Regions from separate parts of the Homo sapiens genome. Here region 2 is linked to region 1. The links come from fine-mapping of genetic effects on gene expression. Tissue or cell type: adrenal gland. Region 1 holds a variant in brackets; the other region holds the start of a gene. All regions are shown on one strand. Distances are from middle to middle.

Evidence for each region. PIP is the estimated chance that this variant, and not a neighbour inherited with it, causes the effect.
Region 2: SYNM starts here. The variant in region 1 is fine-mapped to the expression of SYNM in adrenal gland (GTEx, PIP above 0.99). The same link has a PIP of 0.9 or more in ovary.

What each region holds. Positions count from the first base shown.
Region 1 is chr15:99,171,512-99,179,613 of GRCh38, forward strand. It overlaps TTC23 (tetratricopeptide repeat domain 23), which reads right to left. Exons shown (of 14, transcript NM_001288615.3): 10 at 3,539-3,644. Among named protein-coding and RNA genes, the nearest start is that of TTC23-AS1, 36 kb to the left of the region's middle. The variant T/TA (reference allele first, on the strand shown) is at 3,254.
Region 2 is chr15:99,101,300-99,109,401 of GRCh38, forward strand. It overlaps SYNM (synemin), which reads left to right and starts at 3,781. Exons shown (of 4, transcript NM_145728.3): 1 at 3,781-4,710. The coding sequence starts at 3,901. SYNM-AS1 (SYNM antisense RNA 1) reads right to left here and starts at 4,578. Exons shown (of 3, transcript NR_187219.1): 1 at 4,389-4,578. RefSeq lists silencers at 3,531-4,440, 4,721-4,890.

The DNA.
Region 1 (8,102 bases):
TGTTACTGTCACTATTATGATTCTTGCTTGCTCCTGAGTCTCTCCGTCTTTTTTTTTTTTTTTTTTTTTTGAGACTGAGTCTCGCTCTGTCGCCAGGCTGTAGTGCAGTGGTACAATCTCGGCTCACGGCAACCTCTGCCTCCAGGGTTCAAGTGATTCTCATGCCTCAGCCTCCCGAGTAGCTGGGACTACAGGTGCGCAACACAACACCCAGCTAATTTTTTGTATTTTTAGTAGAGATGGGGTTTCACCATGTTGGCCAGGATGGTTTGATGGTCTCTATCTCTTGACCTCGTGATCCACCCACCTCGGCCTCCCAAAGTGCTGGGATTACAGGTGTGAGCCACTGGGCCCGGCCTCTCAGTCGTCTTTTGCTTCTGCTTCAAGCAACCAATCCTCCAGGCCTAATGCAGAAGTCACCCCCTTTCCCAATTTGTAAAACTATCAGTCCCAACTCCTTGTGCCTGGGAGAAGTTGTCTTCTTACCCATCTACTTTATGTTTCTCACATTTTTTTTTTTTTTGGAGACAGAGTATTGCTGTGTTGCCCAGGCTGGAGTGCAGTGGCACAATCTTGGCTCACTGTAACCTTTGCCTCCCAGGTTCAAGTGACTCTCATGCCTCAGCCTCCCAAGTAGCTGGGACTACAGGCGCGCACCACCACACCTGGCTAATTTTTGTATTTTCAGTAGAGACGGGGTTTCATTATGCTGGCCAGGCTGGTCTCGAACTCCTGACCTCATGTGATCCACCCATCTTGGCCTCCCAAAGTGGCTCCTCACATATTTCAATTCTGACTGGCAAGTGGGCTTTCTGAGTGCATGTCACCGAATGCCCTCAGCTGCTGCAGGTTGGAGCTGAGATTCTCCGCATGCTCCTGGGCCCCAGGCCTTCCCATTGGCACTCCAAACCCTTTTCTCTGGGCTGCCTTCATTCTTCCTGTGTCCCTTGTCTGCCCACAGATTCTTTTGGTGGGCCTAAGGTGGGAGGAGACATGTGAAGTGCCAGACCCTATAACATGACATGGCATAAAGAGCCTCTGGGGTGGTTGGCTGCCTGGGTTCATATCTTTACCACTCACTGGTTATGGGCCCTTGGAAAAATTACCTAATCTCTGGGTGCCTCAACTTCTCCATCCAACAAATGGGGATAAATGTACCTATCTCATCGAGTTGCAAGGATTTCTGAATTAATAAATGTAGTGTGGTGAGAACCATTGCTGGTATGCCATATATAAGCGGTAGCTATTAATATTATAACTGTGTGAGGTCATTTAATTATCACACATTTATCATCTGTATCAAGTAGGTATTATTATCATTTTCAATTTAAGAGAAGGCAATAGAGTGCTATATTTAGACTGGAAAACTTTTTAAAAATATATAACTAAAATTGGATTGCCTCTGATTCCAAAAGTCATGCAAAGCAGAGTGGCCTAACTTCACAGCTATGGGACAATAGCATTCTAGGGCACAGATTCACTAGGTCCCACTCAATTCATACCTGCAGTGAGTACACTGAGCACTGGGTCAAGTGCTGGAAACCAGAATCCCTCTAGGCAAAAAGATGGTCTTTTGGCCTTAGCCTCCTCTCTGTTTGGTTTGGTATTCATTCAGGAATGGACCCACCTCCCCTTACTCTGCCAGTTTACGCCCCCAAGGAAAACAGGAAAGATCTGACAGCAACCTGTCACTCTTGCTTTCCAGGTCAAAAGTCACGGATCCAGCCTTCGCACTTGTTTTGACTCACTCAGAGCCTTAAACATATTTCAGTTAGTTACCATCAGTTAAAAATTGGGCTGGGTCTGTGGTGGCTCATGCCTGTTATCCCAGAGTTTTGGGAAGCCAAGATGGGAGGGTAGCCTAGGGCCAGGAGTTCAAGACCATCCTTGGCAAGACTCTGTCTTTAAAAAAGAATTTTTTAAATTAGCTGGGTGCAAGCAGTGTGTGCCTGTAGTCCCACCTACTTCGCAGGCTGAGGCAGGAAGACCACTTGAGCCCAGGAGTCTGAGGCTGCAGTGGGCTATAATTGCGCCACTGCATTCCAGCCTGGGTGACAGAGTGAGACCCTGTCTCTAAAAAAATAAAAAATAATTAAAAAAAAATTGAAGATTCTCCAATAAAACTCCAAATTTCCACCTTCTCTTAAAAAAGGAGCTCTGCCAATATAAGCCTCCCTTCCACATGGCTGCCAGGGCTGGAGCTTAAGTAGCAGGTATGGGTTTTAGTTTGCCACAATCCTCACCACTCTGTTTCGTCTCTCTCATACTACAGCCATCAGTTAGCTGCCATTTATAACTATGCTTGCTGCTGCTGCTGGTTTCTGATAACCACCTGCTTCACTCACATTGCTTGCTTGGTTCCTGTAGACATTTAGATTTGTGACTTGCTATTCTAGGAGTTTCCATCAAACATGTATTTTAAGTGTTTTATTAATAGGTATGGAATAGAAAGTACTTTCCTCCTATTACATGAATTTTAGGCACCAACAAGCAAACCTGATGGTTAGTGTGGAATGTTCTAGGGAGCAGGGACAAGAAAGGTCACCTGTCTCCTCTCTCCATCCTTACACAGGCTCCTCCAGATCTAAAAAGGTGCTTCAAGCTCTAGTAGGCCAGAATGAGAGATCTGCAAGGTGTGATGGACAGATGGATAAATGCCGATGCCCCCTTCATCAGTTCCTCTGTGGACCGAAGCTCCCTGCCTGGCCCATGGATCTTTTCAGACCAGGCTGCTCATTGAAGCTTTCCCTTCACCTTCTCCCATGTGCTGGCCTCATTTTAGCCTGACTTCTACTTCCTGAATCAACCCCATGCCTTCCAGATGTTGATTTTATGCTTTTGAGCACAGTGGACCTTATTTTATTCAGTATGTAATTATTTTTATCTGATATCTTGGAATACACCCCTAGGTCTTCTTTATGAATTGTACTCCATTTCTGAATATTATGACCAAAAAAAAAAAAAAATCATTAGTACTATGTGTTTTCTGCCAACGGAGGCACATTGTATGCTCTGTACGTGGATTAAATAATTCCTGAAGCTTGATGCTCTACCTATTACGCGGGGATAAGAAAAACCCTAAGAAAAAGCCATAAATGGCAACTTCCTTTTGGAATCCTGAAGCCGTGTAAGTTCATCCTGATGGAAAGTTCAGCCCTGACAGTGCCTGGAGGCCGGCTGGCCCAGAGGCCAGAGCTGTTGCCACAACAATCTTTAAAAATAGATCACCTTTGAAAGCAGAGCAGATTTACCG[T/TA]AAGCCCAGTACAGATGCTCTGGGGCTCTTAACAGCTAACATTTGGATAGAGATTGGCTGTATTTAAGAATAAAAGACTAGAAGAAGGCTAGAAGAAGGGGAGAGAAACCAAAGGACTCAGAGGAAAGCAGCAGAGTAGCATAGGGGCAGATGATCAGATAAAACAAGGAAGGCTCTGTGGCGGGCCTGTGTCGCGGCTCTGTCCACCTGTTAACCCATCTAGAAGGCAGCTCGTTTATAGACCCAGATGCCTGTGAGACAGGAAGAGAAAAGGATTCTTCTCACCATGGTGCTCGTGTCTCCCTGAAGCGACAGCAGCATGGGCGACGATGTGTGCCGAGTCTGCTGCCTCCACTTGAGAGGGGCTTCTACTCAGGATGATAAGATGTGCCTGTCACCACAGAAAGAAGAAACATGTTGTTTACATACTTGGCAGCAGCAGCAGGGAATTAACTGTCCTTGCAGAGATAAGCAGAAAGCCAAGGAACTTTCCAGCAAGCTAGAAGAAATGATTTATGTGGAAGTGAAATCAACTCGCAGGAAAGCTGGATTTTAAAAGGTCTGAGTGGTGGAGGGAACACTGGACAATGAATCCAGATGGCTCAATGCTATGGCCAGGGCCTGTCACTAAGCAAATCATTAAACGTCTATGATCCTTTGAGTCCAGTGTCAGCAAAGGAAGGGGAGTTACAAGAAGTAAAGAGATGAATAGAAGGTGTCGATGCTGTGCAGACAGTGGGCAAGCCCAGTGCCCTGCCTACCCGCCAGCCCCAAAAGTGGGACCTACCGGTGGGTGTCAGCAGTCTCCCCACAGATATACAGACCCCTCCTTTGTGCCTGTGCCACCAAGCCCATTTGCCTGCACCCTCTACAAACTTGCTCAGGGGAGCTGCCCAAGCACAGAAAGCAGCTCAGTTCCTTGAAAATAAAGTCCACTAAAATGTTGTTGCCCAGGCGCGGTGGCTCATGTCTGTAATCCCAGCACTTTGGGAGGCCAAGGCAGGTGGATCACTTGAGGTCAGGAGTTCAAGACCAGCCTGGCCAACATGGTGAAACCTCATCTCTAATAAAAATATAAAAATTAGCCGGGTATGGTGGTGCACGCCTATAGTCCCAGCTATTTGGAAGGCTGAGGCACGAGAACAGCTTGAACCTGGGAGGTGGAGGTTGCAGTGGGCCGAGATTGCACCACTGCACTCTAGCCTGGGTGACAGAGACTCTGTCTCAAAAAATAAAAGTTTTTAAACAACAAACAAAAAACTATGATCTTCTGAACATAAAATCACAATAGTCCTTTCAAATAACATGCAAAATACCTGCTTTCAAATAAAAAGTAACTACTCAACTCCCTGTCAGCATTTGGAGTTTTAAAATACTATTAGTAACATGTTTACATTCATTCACACTTAGGATTGCCTACTATAGGAGAGGCATGGGCTAGAAAGTGTGTGCAGTACAAAAAATAAAATACGGTGAAGTAAGATAATACACTAATGTGAGTCAGTAGGTAGGTAGTTCACAATTAATTGCCAAAAGAGTGACAGAATACTAAAATGCCATGAGTAGGCCAGGCATGGTGGCTCACAACTGTACTCCCAGCAGTTTGGGGGACTGAGGCTGGAGATTGCTAGAGCTCAGGAGTTCAAGATGAGCCTGGGCAACATGGTGAAACCCTGTCTCTACAACAAATACAAAAATTAGCCGGGCATGGTGGCATATGCCTGCAGTCCCAGCTACTCGGGAGGGCTAAAGCGGGTGAATTGCTTTGAGCCCGGGAGGTTGAGGCTGCAATGAGTTATGATTATGCCACTGCACTTCAGCCTGGGTGACAGAGCAAGACCCTGTCATACACAAATACACACAAAAAGATAAAAAAGGAAAACACTAGATTGGGATAGGCAAAACACACTAGCAATTCATAAGATGTAAGCTGCACTTTAATTCTTTTTTATTTGTGATACCAATTTTAATTTTCTTGATAATTGTTATCTTCATTTTATACATGAGAAAACTAAGATTGCTGAATGGGTGATTATGATATCTCACAGCTAATAAGAGATAGAGATAAGAGTCTGACCCTGATCCTCTAACTTCAAATTCTGCTATCTCTATCATGTCCTGAGTGCTGCCATTCCCCCCACCCTAGCCAGTGGTGGGAGACATCACTAATTGATGCCAGCACACTCCTCAGGGAACCCTAATTCAGTCCTCAGGAGCTGTGATTCATCTATGGCAGCTGGCACAGGAGATCAAGTCATCCCAGTTGAGCATTCTAGTCTGGACCATGCAGTACTTCCTCCTCTTATGACCAGCCGAATGCATTTCTGAGACTATAATCAGAGCGGAGATAGAATCTTTGACTCTAGACTGTCACCTTACTTGTCACATGTTAAAATCTGCTAAGCTACTAGCTCTGGACTTTTTATGTTGGGGCTACTCCAAAATAAGACTGCAGGTAATAATTTTTATTGCTGCATTAGAATAGTCAGAATTTCTTATTCATAAGTGCCAACAATATCCTTTGCTTTAAAATGACTTTTCTTATTACAGAATATAAAGAATTGAATATGTGATTTTGGCAACCCCAAATTAGCCACTGTCCTTGATTTGGCATGAAAGGCCCAATCTTAAGGTCTGACTTAAATGTTTTCCAAATAACGGGCACTATGAAATTCAACTTCATGTGTATATAGACAATAGCAGCCACAGGGATAGAGTCAAATTATTGCTTGTGTAGTGTTTGGAGAAAGGAAAAAAGAGGAAATACCCACACCCTCCGAAAAAATACCAAATGCAAATTGAGCCATGTTTACTTTGCTTTTCCCCTACTATCTCTACGATCTGTTATTTGGAGAGAACAATCACTGTGTAATGCCAGAAAAGCTTTAACTCATATGATGCAAAGACATATAGTATTTTAGATTAAAACCAAAACAAGAAAGATTTTATATTTTGTTTCTTCCTATTCAATATTATAAATTCAAGAAAATGTTAATAGATATGTGTCTAACAAAATTATTTTCAAATCAATAATTACATGTTCTGAAAACACTGTAAGTTGTTTTTTTGCCATGGAGACAGAAAGCAAAGTTTTCCAAGAGCAAAATACACACAATATCAAGAAAGTGAGTCAGGCTGGGCATGCTGGCTCATGCCTATAATCTCAGCACCTTGGGAGGCCGAGGCAGGAGGATCACTTGAGCTCAGGAGTTTGAGACTAGCCTGGGCAACATAGTGAGACCCTGTCTGTACTAAAAAATAAAAAAAATTAGCCAGGGGTGGTGGCATACACCTGTAGTCCCAGCTACGCAGGACGCTGAGGTGGGAAGATCACTTGATCCTGGGAGATCAAGACTGCAGTGAGCCGTGATCGTGTACTGCACTCCAGCTTGAGTGACAAAGCAAGACTCTGTCTCAAAAAATAAAAAAAGAAAGTGGGTCCTGAAAGCTTAAAGGGATCTGAATTTATCACAAAATTTTCATGACTTAAACATTTTTCTACATGAAATGCTAACATAAGCAAACATTTATTATTCATTATTCACTTCAGAAACTCAATCCCTAATGTAATTTATTTGATGTTCATGAAGCTTTTATAAACCATATGCTAGAGGGAAGGGGGTTTGACGGGGGAACACCCAGGATGTCTAAAATGTGCAAAATTAGCATCTCATTTATTCAGTAAAATTCAATTTAATTCCATTTAATTTAATTCAGTCCTATTCAACTTATGTTCATTTTTAAATGCTTTCTACATGCCAGATATTGTGCTAACATTAGAAATTCCCCTAAAAATTTAGGCAGGAATTTTAGTTTTAAAGGAGCTCACATGTGAACTACAAAAATGTAGGATAGTTTGTATTTTATGCAGATTTACAGACACTGCCCCTCACTAGGTTTTTGCACCCAGCTAACTGACTTCCTATCTACCCTTACTCTTGTCATCATTTCCCAAGATTTCAGTATGCATGAGATTGGCCTGTACTCAATCAGGCAGGAAAGAGATGGCACATGTAAACAGGTTAATGGAGGAAAAGAGGTCAATAAAATGATCCCTGGCATGGAGGAAACCCAAGATGAGCACGCTGGCTCCCAAGACAAGGTGCTGGGGGCATTTGCTATAACCAGAAAGAAGAATTGTAGGGAAATGAGCGGTGGGTTTCAGTAGAGACACGGCCTACCTGCAGGGACCTTGAGGGGAGGGGCTGGAGGAATGGATGCTCTGTCTCCATGTCTTCCCTGGTCCAGGCTGTGTATCTCTCAGTCTGAGGGAAAGGGCACTGAGATGGTAATTAAAGGTCAGCCTCTGGGGCACAGAGCAGGGCTGAGAAGGATGCACAGTGTAGCTGAAGGACCACACGGAAATGTCCAGCCAACGACCTAGCCAACACCTTGGCCTCTCAGGTTTCTGACAAACTTACTTTCCTCCTTACTCTCAGGTGCCCAGTCCCTGGGTCACACTCCAGACCTCATCATCGCCCACTCTGTGTTACCACTGGATCCTCCAACTCACAGACCCATTTTGGCTCTTGGGGGGCCCTAGATCTATTGCCTCCATGCACATCTACTCCACCGCCCCCTGACATTCTCACTAGTCATCCAACCCTCCTGCTGTCCTTCCCTTCTTGTCCAGCTTAATGGGCACCGCCCATTGCCTGTGTTGAAAATGCCCTCCACTGATGCATTAATTGAGATGGTAAAAAATGGGGAACCACCTAAATATCTATCAGCAGGGGAATGAACATATTGTGGTTTATTCTACAAGTTCTTGATTGAACTCCATCTACATATGTTAACATGGTTGTATTTCAAAAACATACCACTGAGTGAACGAAGCAACTTGTAAAAG
Region 2 (8,102 bases), 70 kb before region 1:
GATTACAGTTGACAAATGAATGCAGCACCATGAATATTGATTGATATTTTTGTTTACCTTAGCAAGAAAGACAAAGGTGAAATAACTGAGAAATTTCATTTATTCTTCATCATGATGTAACTTCTTTTTAAATTTTTTTTGTATTTTTAAATTTTGTTAAGACAGGATCTCACTCTGCTACCCAGGCTGGAGTGCAACGGCTCAATCATGGCTCACCAAAACCTCGATCTCCTGGGCTCAAGGAATCCTCTCACTTCAGCCTCCCAAGTAGCTGGGATTACAGGTGCATGCCACCATGCCCAGTTAATTTTTGTATTTTTTGTAGAGAGGGGGTTTTGCCATGTCCAGGCTGGTCTCGAACTCCTGAGCTCAAGTGCTCTGCATGCCTTGGCCTCCCAAAGTCTTGGTATTACGAGTGTAAGCCACCACGCCCAGCTATGAAGCAACTTCTTTCCTGATCTGGATACAAGTTTCGAGACACCGGACAAACATTTCCTCACGTTTTTGTGCTGTTCACAATTCAATAGCTAGACACACAACATACCACTAAATTTAATCTGCACTATTAACATACTCTCCACTGCTTTTAAAGGCTAGACAATCAACAAAACATCAAATCCACAAAAACAAGTCATTGGCTGATTTCTGTGTTGTAAATACTCAAGCTACCAACATGATGTCAGTGAATATGGAGTAGGGTAGTACACATTAAATGGCATTTCTATGGTGCAGGCACACTGCTCATTCATAACTTCAAGAGCAGATCATAGGAAAATGCAGTGAAATACTGAGGAAGTGATACGTTTTGAATATGTGTTTGCTCTTTTTGTATAATTAGTTGTAAGCTTCTATAATTAATTTTTAATAATGGCTGTGTTTAACAAGTGGTTCATAAAATTCTAAAAATTTAACAGTTGGCACTCACAAACCTGTGGGAGCCAACCGCAGTGCACCACTGCCAGGCTCCTGTGACTTCTGGCTTCCACAGCGGGAAGTATTGGCAAGAGAAGGGAGGCTTGGATGAAGGAAGAACTGGGTTTTCCTCCTCTTGCTCCCTCCTGGGATCCATTCTGCTCCTCTTTTCCAGCGCTCTGGGCTTCTCCAGGCTCAGCCAACACCCTAAGGCGCTAACGGCTTCTTAGCTTCTTGCTCTTGCTGGTCCCTGGTGCTTCCTCATCCCATCCATCCCCATCCCATCAATCATTCCCTTCCCTCTGAGTTTGCCTCTGCTTCCTGGCCAGACCCTGCCTGCTCAAGTCTGCTCTTGTGGTCACAACTCTAATACTTCTAGTCACTTCACCCCTCCGAGCTTCAGTGTTGTGAGGATTCAGTATGAAGCAGCAGGATATTATCCTGAAAGAGTAGCTGGGGGTACTTCCCCCCTCCCACCTCCCGGCCCTGCTAGTTCCTGATCCCCTATAACTCTTTCCCTACCGGGGCAGCTGCATGCTGGAGCAGTCAATTCCTCAGGGACAGGATTTACAGCAGAAATGGGGGAAAGGGTTTTGAGTTTCAAAGTCCAAGACCCTGAAGGGCACTGGGCAAAGAAAGACTAATGAGTCACTGCAAAGTGTCCTGCTGGGACTCACTGGTCCCTGAGAAGGCTCTCCCACCCTGCAGGGCTGCCCCCTGCCCAGCCAGGGGATGTGGGACAGCAGAACCCGTTAGCGTGGGGAGTCAAAGAGCTGAGAACAAACAGCTGCAGCGGAGTCCAGGCAACTGTGAGAGCCGCCCCCCCGCACCCCAATGTCCCAGAGGGGCCCAGGACCGGCAGGGTCTCCACATAGGTTTGGGCGATGACACCACAGCAGCTCTGGTGTTTGACAAGCAAAGGCCAGGTGTCAGTGTGCACCTGGGGGAATGGGAGGATGGACAATGATGGGGTGATGGGGGTCCAAATCCCCCTGTCCCACACCAAGGTGAATGAACCCAAGCACTGAATAAACCCACTTTCCACCCCCACTTAGTTTTAGCAGAAAAGGACAGGGAATTATTCATTGAAAGATATTAATTTCTACCACCTACAGAATGGGATCTCCAACATAGGGTCTCTAGAAAAAGGAAGGGCCACTTTCTGCCTTGCTTGTGATTGGAGGCTCATGGCTGTGACAAGGAGAGCACTAGAAGCTTTGTCAGAGGCCCTGGACCAGCTTGCTGAGTAGTCCACCTTTCCATGCCATCTGTAAAATACACTAACTGCTGGCCCTGCCATGAGGAGCCCTCTGGCCAGTGGATGACCGTCCAGGTCTCGCCCTGGGCACTTGTGTTGCCACAAGTTCAAGGGCACCCCAACCAAGGGTCAGCTGGTTTGTCCCTGTGAGCCTTAATGACACTTATACTGAGAACTGTCATTCATAAATAACTGCCATGAAAACTAATGAAATGCAAGTGTACAAAAAAGAGCTGTGGTTTCCATGGCAATTAAACTGAATACTTTCTTAGGGAAATGCTGGAAAGAAACAGCTGTCACATTAGGGGTGTGTGTGTGAGATTTGTAAAAGTTCGGGGAGATGTTAGATGTCTAGAAAGTTCTGTACTTGGAGCACTTTATGGTCTCTAAGTTTTCACTCCAAATGAAAGAAATTCGTTTTGGAAAATGTAATGTACTATGAGGGTAGCTTGTATAAGAAGGGCAACTGGGACTCCTGTCAACTGACATCAAGAGAAGTATTTTGCACATTAAAATACTGGTAAATGGATATATATTTATGTTTTAAGTTAAAAAGATTATTTAGGCTGGGCACGGTAGCTCACGCCAGTAATCCCAGGACTTTGGGAGGCCGAGGTGGGCGGATCACCTGAGGTCGTGAGTTCGAGACCAGCCTGACCAACATGGAGAAACCCCGTCTCTACCAAAAATACAAAAAAAAAAAAAAAAAAAAAAAAAAAAAATTAGCCAGGCGTGGTGGCGCTGGCCTGTAATCCCGGTTACTCGGGAGGCTGAGGCAGGAGAATCGCTTGAACCCGGGAGGCGGAGGCTGTGGTGAGCCGAGATCGTGCCATTGCACTCCAGCCTGGGCAACAAGAGCGACACTCTGTCTCAAAAAAAAAAAAAAAAAAATTAATGCACATGTATGTGTAATGTATATATATGAGATGAGGCCTCTCTCTGTTGCCCAGGCTGGAGCGCAGTGCCACAATCAGGTTCACTGCAGCCCTGAACTCCTGGGTTCGAGTAATCCTCCCGCCTCAGCCTCCCAAGCAGCGCGTGTGACACCACCACGCCAGGCTCCATATATATATATATATATATATATTTTTTTTTTTTTTTTTTTTTTGGTAGAGACAGGGTCTCTCTATGTTGCTCAGGCTGGTCTCGAACTCCTGGGCTCAAGCGAGCCTCCCACCTCGGCTTCCCAAAATGCTGGGATTATAGGCCTGAGCCACCGCGCCCGGCCCATATCGTTTTTTTAAAAATAGAAAAGCCACCAATCTCCAGGGCCTCGGGTAAGAAGTCGCTCCAAAATCGCCAGCACCACAGCAACTCAATAGGCTTCTATTTCCATCCACCAAGGCCAGGACACTCGTATGCTCCCGGACGCCCTCTCCGGCGTCCCTTCGCTGAGCCCGGCCTGGCTAGCCCGCCACCCCGCCCGCTGTTACCCGACTGCCCGCACCGACCACCTGCGGCCGCCAAGGTGCGGCAGGGGGCGCTGTGCGGCCGCAGAGGCCGCGCCGGGCCGCGCTCTGATTGGCTGGAGGCCGCGGCCCTCGCCCAGGCCGCCCGCCCAGTCTGCCCGCCCCGTCCGCTAAGTGCCTGGGCTCTCCCGCTCGCGTCCCAGTCTGCGGGCCTCCGGGGCAGCGGCGAGGCCGGAGCGTCGCGGCGGAGAGGACGAGACCGGGACAAGACCAGGGCAGGAGGGAGCCGGCCAGCCGCGAGAACCCCGCACGCCCGGCAAGATGCTGTCCTGGCGGCTGCAGACGGGCCCCGAGAAGGCCGAGCTCCAGGAGCTCAACGCCCGGCTCTATGACTACGTGTGTCGGGTGCGGGAGCTGGAGCGCGAAAACCTACTCCTGGAGGAGGAGCTGCGCGGCCGGCGCGGGCGAGAGGGCCTGTGGGCCGAGGGGCAGGCCCGCTGCGCCGAGGAGGCGCGCAGCTTGCGGCAGCAGCTGGACGAGCTGAGCTGGGCCACTGCGCTGGCGGAGGGCGAGCGGGACGCTCTGCGGCGCGAGCTGCGGGAGCTGCAGCGCCTGGATGCGGAGGAGCGCGCCGCCCGCGGCCGCCTGGACGCCGAGCTGGGTGCGCAGCAGCGCGAGCTGCAGGAGGCGCTGGGCGCGCGCGCCGCCCTCGAGGCGCTGCTGGGCCGGCTGCAGGCCGAGCGCCGAGGCCTCGACGCGGCCCACGAACGCGACGTGAGGGAGCTGCGCGCGCGCGCCGCCAGCCTTACCATGCATTTCCGCGCCCGCGCCACCGGCCCCGCCGCGCCGCCGCCACGCCTGCGGGAGGTGCACGACAGCTACGCACTGCTGGTGGCCGAGTCGTGGCGGGAGACGGTGCAGCTGTACGAGGACGAGGTGCGCGAGCTGGAGGAGGCGCTGCGGCGCGGCCAGGAGAGCAGACTCCAGGCGGAGGAAGAGACGCGGCTGTGCGCGCAGGAGGCAGAGGCGCTGCGGCGCGAGGCGCTCGGGTTGGAGCAGCTGCGCGCGCGGCTGGAGGACGCGCTGCTGCGGATGCGCGAGGAGTACGGGATACAGGCCGAGGAGCGGCAGGTCCGTGCGCGGGGATGGCGCGCTGACCCCATACCCGCTGCCGTCGCCCCAGCACCCTGCCCTTGACGGCGTGGGGCAGCGGCCCCTTCACCAGGGGCGCGGCGTCGCGGACCGGTAGGGCCCGCCCAGAGGGTGCCCGAATGGCATGGGGACCCGGACTCGGTCCGCTGGTCCATCGACTCAGCGGGCGAGCGCGGGGCGGCAGGTCCTAGCGGATAGCCCCGTCCTCGTCATGGGGTTAGGTGGCAGCTGCTTTAACTCTTGACAAGCGTGACTGGGCGCATCCTGATAGGCCACCCTGTTAGCTCTAGGTTTTCCTTCCATTTTCCGTGCTCCGTAGACTCAGTAGACCCAGATCTAAGAGTCAACCGAGAAACCTCTCTCACTTGCAGAAGTGACGGCTTATGGTAGCCCCGCTGTCTATAGCGCTCCTCAGGGGAAAACTCAAATTAATTTCCAAAACGGTTTTTATTTTGCCAATATGATTTCCCAGTTGGAAGCCGCAGTTGTGGCTCTCTGGGCGGCTGCCTTGTTTGATCTTGGGAGGGGCAGCAACCCTCATGCAGAACAGAGCTTGATCGAAGATGTTTTGCTCACAGCACACGCTGACGTCAGATCTCTGCGTAGTGTAAAAGTTGTGGGAAAGTGGGGCCCTTTGGCAGGATGTTATTACAAGTGCAGAGTGATATAAACAGTTACTATTTCAGGGAAGCAAACCCTCTGACACCGGCGGGGTGACACCTGTGGCTGATGTAAACTATGCCCAGTCCAGCCCTAGCGTTTGGCCCTCGCCCTGCCCTGCCTCAGCCAGAATTGGAAATATTCCCAAATCACACTATCAGTAGTTCTCAAAAGGACAGATGGAAATAACATCTGCACAATTTCACAAATATTTTAAGAGTACAGTTTGCAGCTGTGAGTTAAAGATTTGAGACTGACTTTTAAAAATTAGAAGTGAGAGGAACATGGGGGTTGTCATATGGAATGACTGCGGTGATGTGACAGGTATCCACAGGTGATGAGTAAATACCTGTTGATTCTCCCTGGGTCCCCAGCACTGCCCTAGACTTTCAGTATGCAAAGAGCTACAGGCTAGATGGGAAATCATAGAATGCAATATGGTACTACATTGGGATTTAATCTTTTGAGTTGTGGGTTTTGTTTGGCTTCCGCCTCATAACTTTTCAAAGTGTTCTCTTGGGGCTTTGCCATAGCTAGAGCAGGGACAGGGACTGACCCAGTGTGTACCGATTTCCACTTGTGAGCACTTGTGTCCCTTTGCAATGACAGTGGCCAGGGGTCTGAGTTCCACAGGTCCTATACTCGTTGTTGAGTGAAAGTTAAAAAGTGCCTTAATGTGGCATTCATGGAGATTTGACCAGTGGTTATTTTGACTCTCCAAAAAGGAGTATCTGTCAAACCTACTGCCCAGGGAACCCCTTTGTAGGGAACCCTCGCTACCAACTCAGGGGTCTGTGCTGTGCAGGCAGGTTTAGAAAATGCTGCTTTGAGCCACGCTGTGTGGACCAAATCGTCACCATGCGTTCACAGCCACAGCTCACTTGGCACATTTCAGACCTTCAAATTCTGGTTCCAGTGTTCTTTCTTAGCGGCAAAGCCCTTTTCCCCACTAATGAAACCTTCAGTGGAACTCGTAATGTGAGCCATATGAAAGCAGAGTTCCCCTGACTGGAGGAGACATGGGGACTTGAAGTGCAGTTAGAATCCTGTGCAGCCCTCCTTTGACACAGGGACTCCAGGGCCCACCGGGGAAGTGCTTTTCCTGAGGTCATACCTGCCCTCAGAGTGAGGCTGGGACCCCACTCTCCGTTTGCCATCCAGTGATACTTCTCTCTTGTTGGAATTTGCTGCTTTTTCCTAAAAGCAAAGAGCGAGGAAAATGTCAATAAGGACCTGGTTTTTTTTTTTGTTTTTTGTTTTGTTTTTTTTTTGGTTTTGGTTTTGGTTTTGGTTTTGGTTTTTTGAGACGGAGTCTTGCTCTGTCGCCCAGGCTGGAGTGCAGTGGCTGATCTCGGCACACCGCAACATCCGCTTCCTGGGCTCAAGTGATTCTCGTGCCTCAGCCTCCCGAGTAGCTGGGAGTACAGGATCCCACCACCCCGCCTGGCTAATTTTTGTATTTTTAGTAGATACAGGGTTTCACCATGTTGGCCAGCCTGGTCTCAAACTCCTGACCTCAAGTGATCCACCGGCCGTGGCCTCCCACAGTGCTGAAATTACAGGTGTGAGCCATGTGCCCGGCCATTTTTTTTTTCCAGTTCCAATTTGCAGAGGTTTTACTGCACTAAGTGTTACCAGTCACTACCTTGTCCATATACTGAATCTTCCCTCAGTTAACTTAAGTCAACTCCATTTCAAATTGCATTCCAGAAGATTCAGCACCAATCACAGAGATGCTAGGAAGTATGTGAAAGAGGGAGTATGGATGATTTAACCCCAAGCCTGTAATTTTTTTCGGGTTCTGTAGAAGCTTACTATGGGGAGAGTGAAAAAATCCTAAAAATGGGTTGAATTAGTATATGGTAATAAATATCTTATTACTAAGAGCCTTTAGCAAGTGCTTCGTGTGTGCCAGGTACCACAGATGCCCTTCACAAATATTCACTCTCAGTGCCCACACCAGTGTTACGAAGTGGGTACTAATATAAGCTCCATTTTACAGAGGAGGAAGCTGAGGCACATAAGTCACCTGATTAGTAAGTAGTTAAGCCAGGATTCAACTCAGGCTCTAGTGCCTGAGCAACTGACCGCTGGGCGTCCGTTTCTCTCTTCTGTCTGTTTGATCAGAGAGAAACCTTTAACCAGTATTCTTGCATTCATAGCATAATGATAATTGCTCTTCCTAAGGGCTAGCCCGAGGTACTCTGCTGATTTCAAGTCCTAAAATGCTTTTAGACCCCTCCAGCTGGCTGAATAGTTTTGGCATTAAAACTATTTTCTTTCATTTCTTTTTTTCTGTGTTCCATGTGCTTTAATGCCCCCCTCCCCTGGAGGCAGGAGCTGGAGGCAGCAGAGGGTGCTGCCACATTGTGCCCAGCTCTCCCTGCCTCTGGCTATAGCTTCTGTGGCTCAAGGGGGAAGATGCTTGCTAGGATTCTACTTGAGGGGAAACTGGTCCTTCCCAGATGGCCCATGCGCCTTCACTGTATGAGGCGGTAGTCATTGGCCTGCCCCAGGCCTGGCCTCAGATTTGCCCGAGAAGAGTTTGCTGAACTGACATCCAAGTTCCCAAATGTGATCTAGATCACTTGAAGCCTGAGTGACACACCCAGGCTGCAGGAGGGGGCTTCAGAAAACACTTGAAGACATTTGCGATAAAGTGGAGACCAGCTTCACCCTGCAAACACGGAGATTTTTGCTTATGAAAGTGA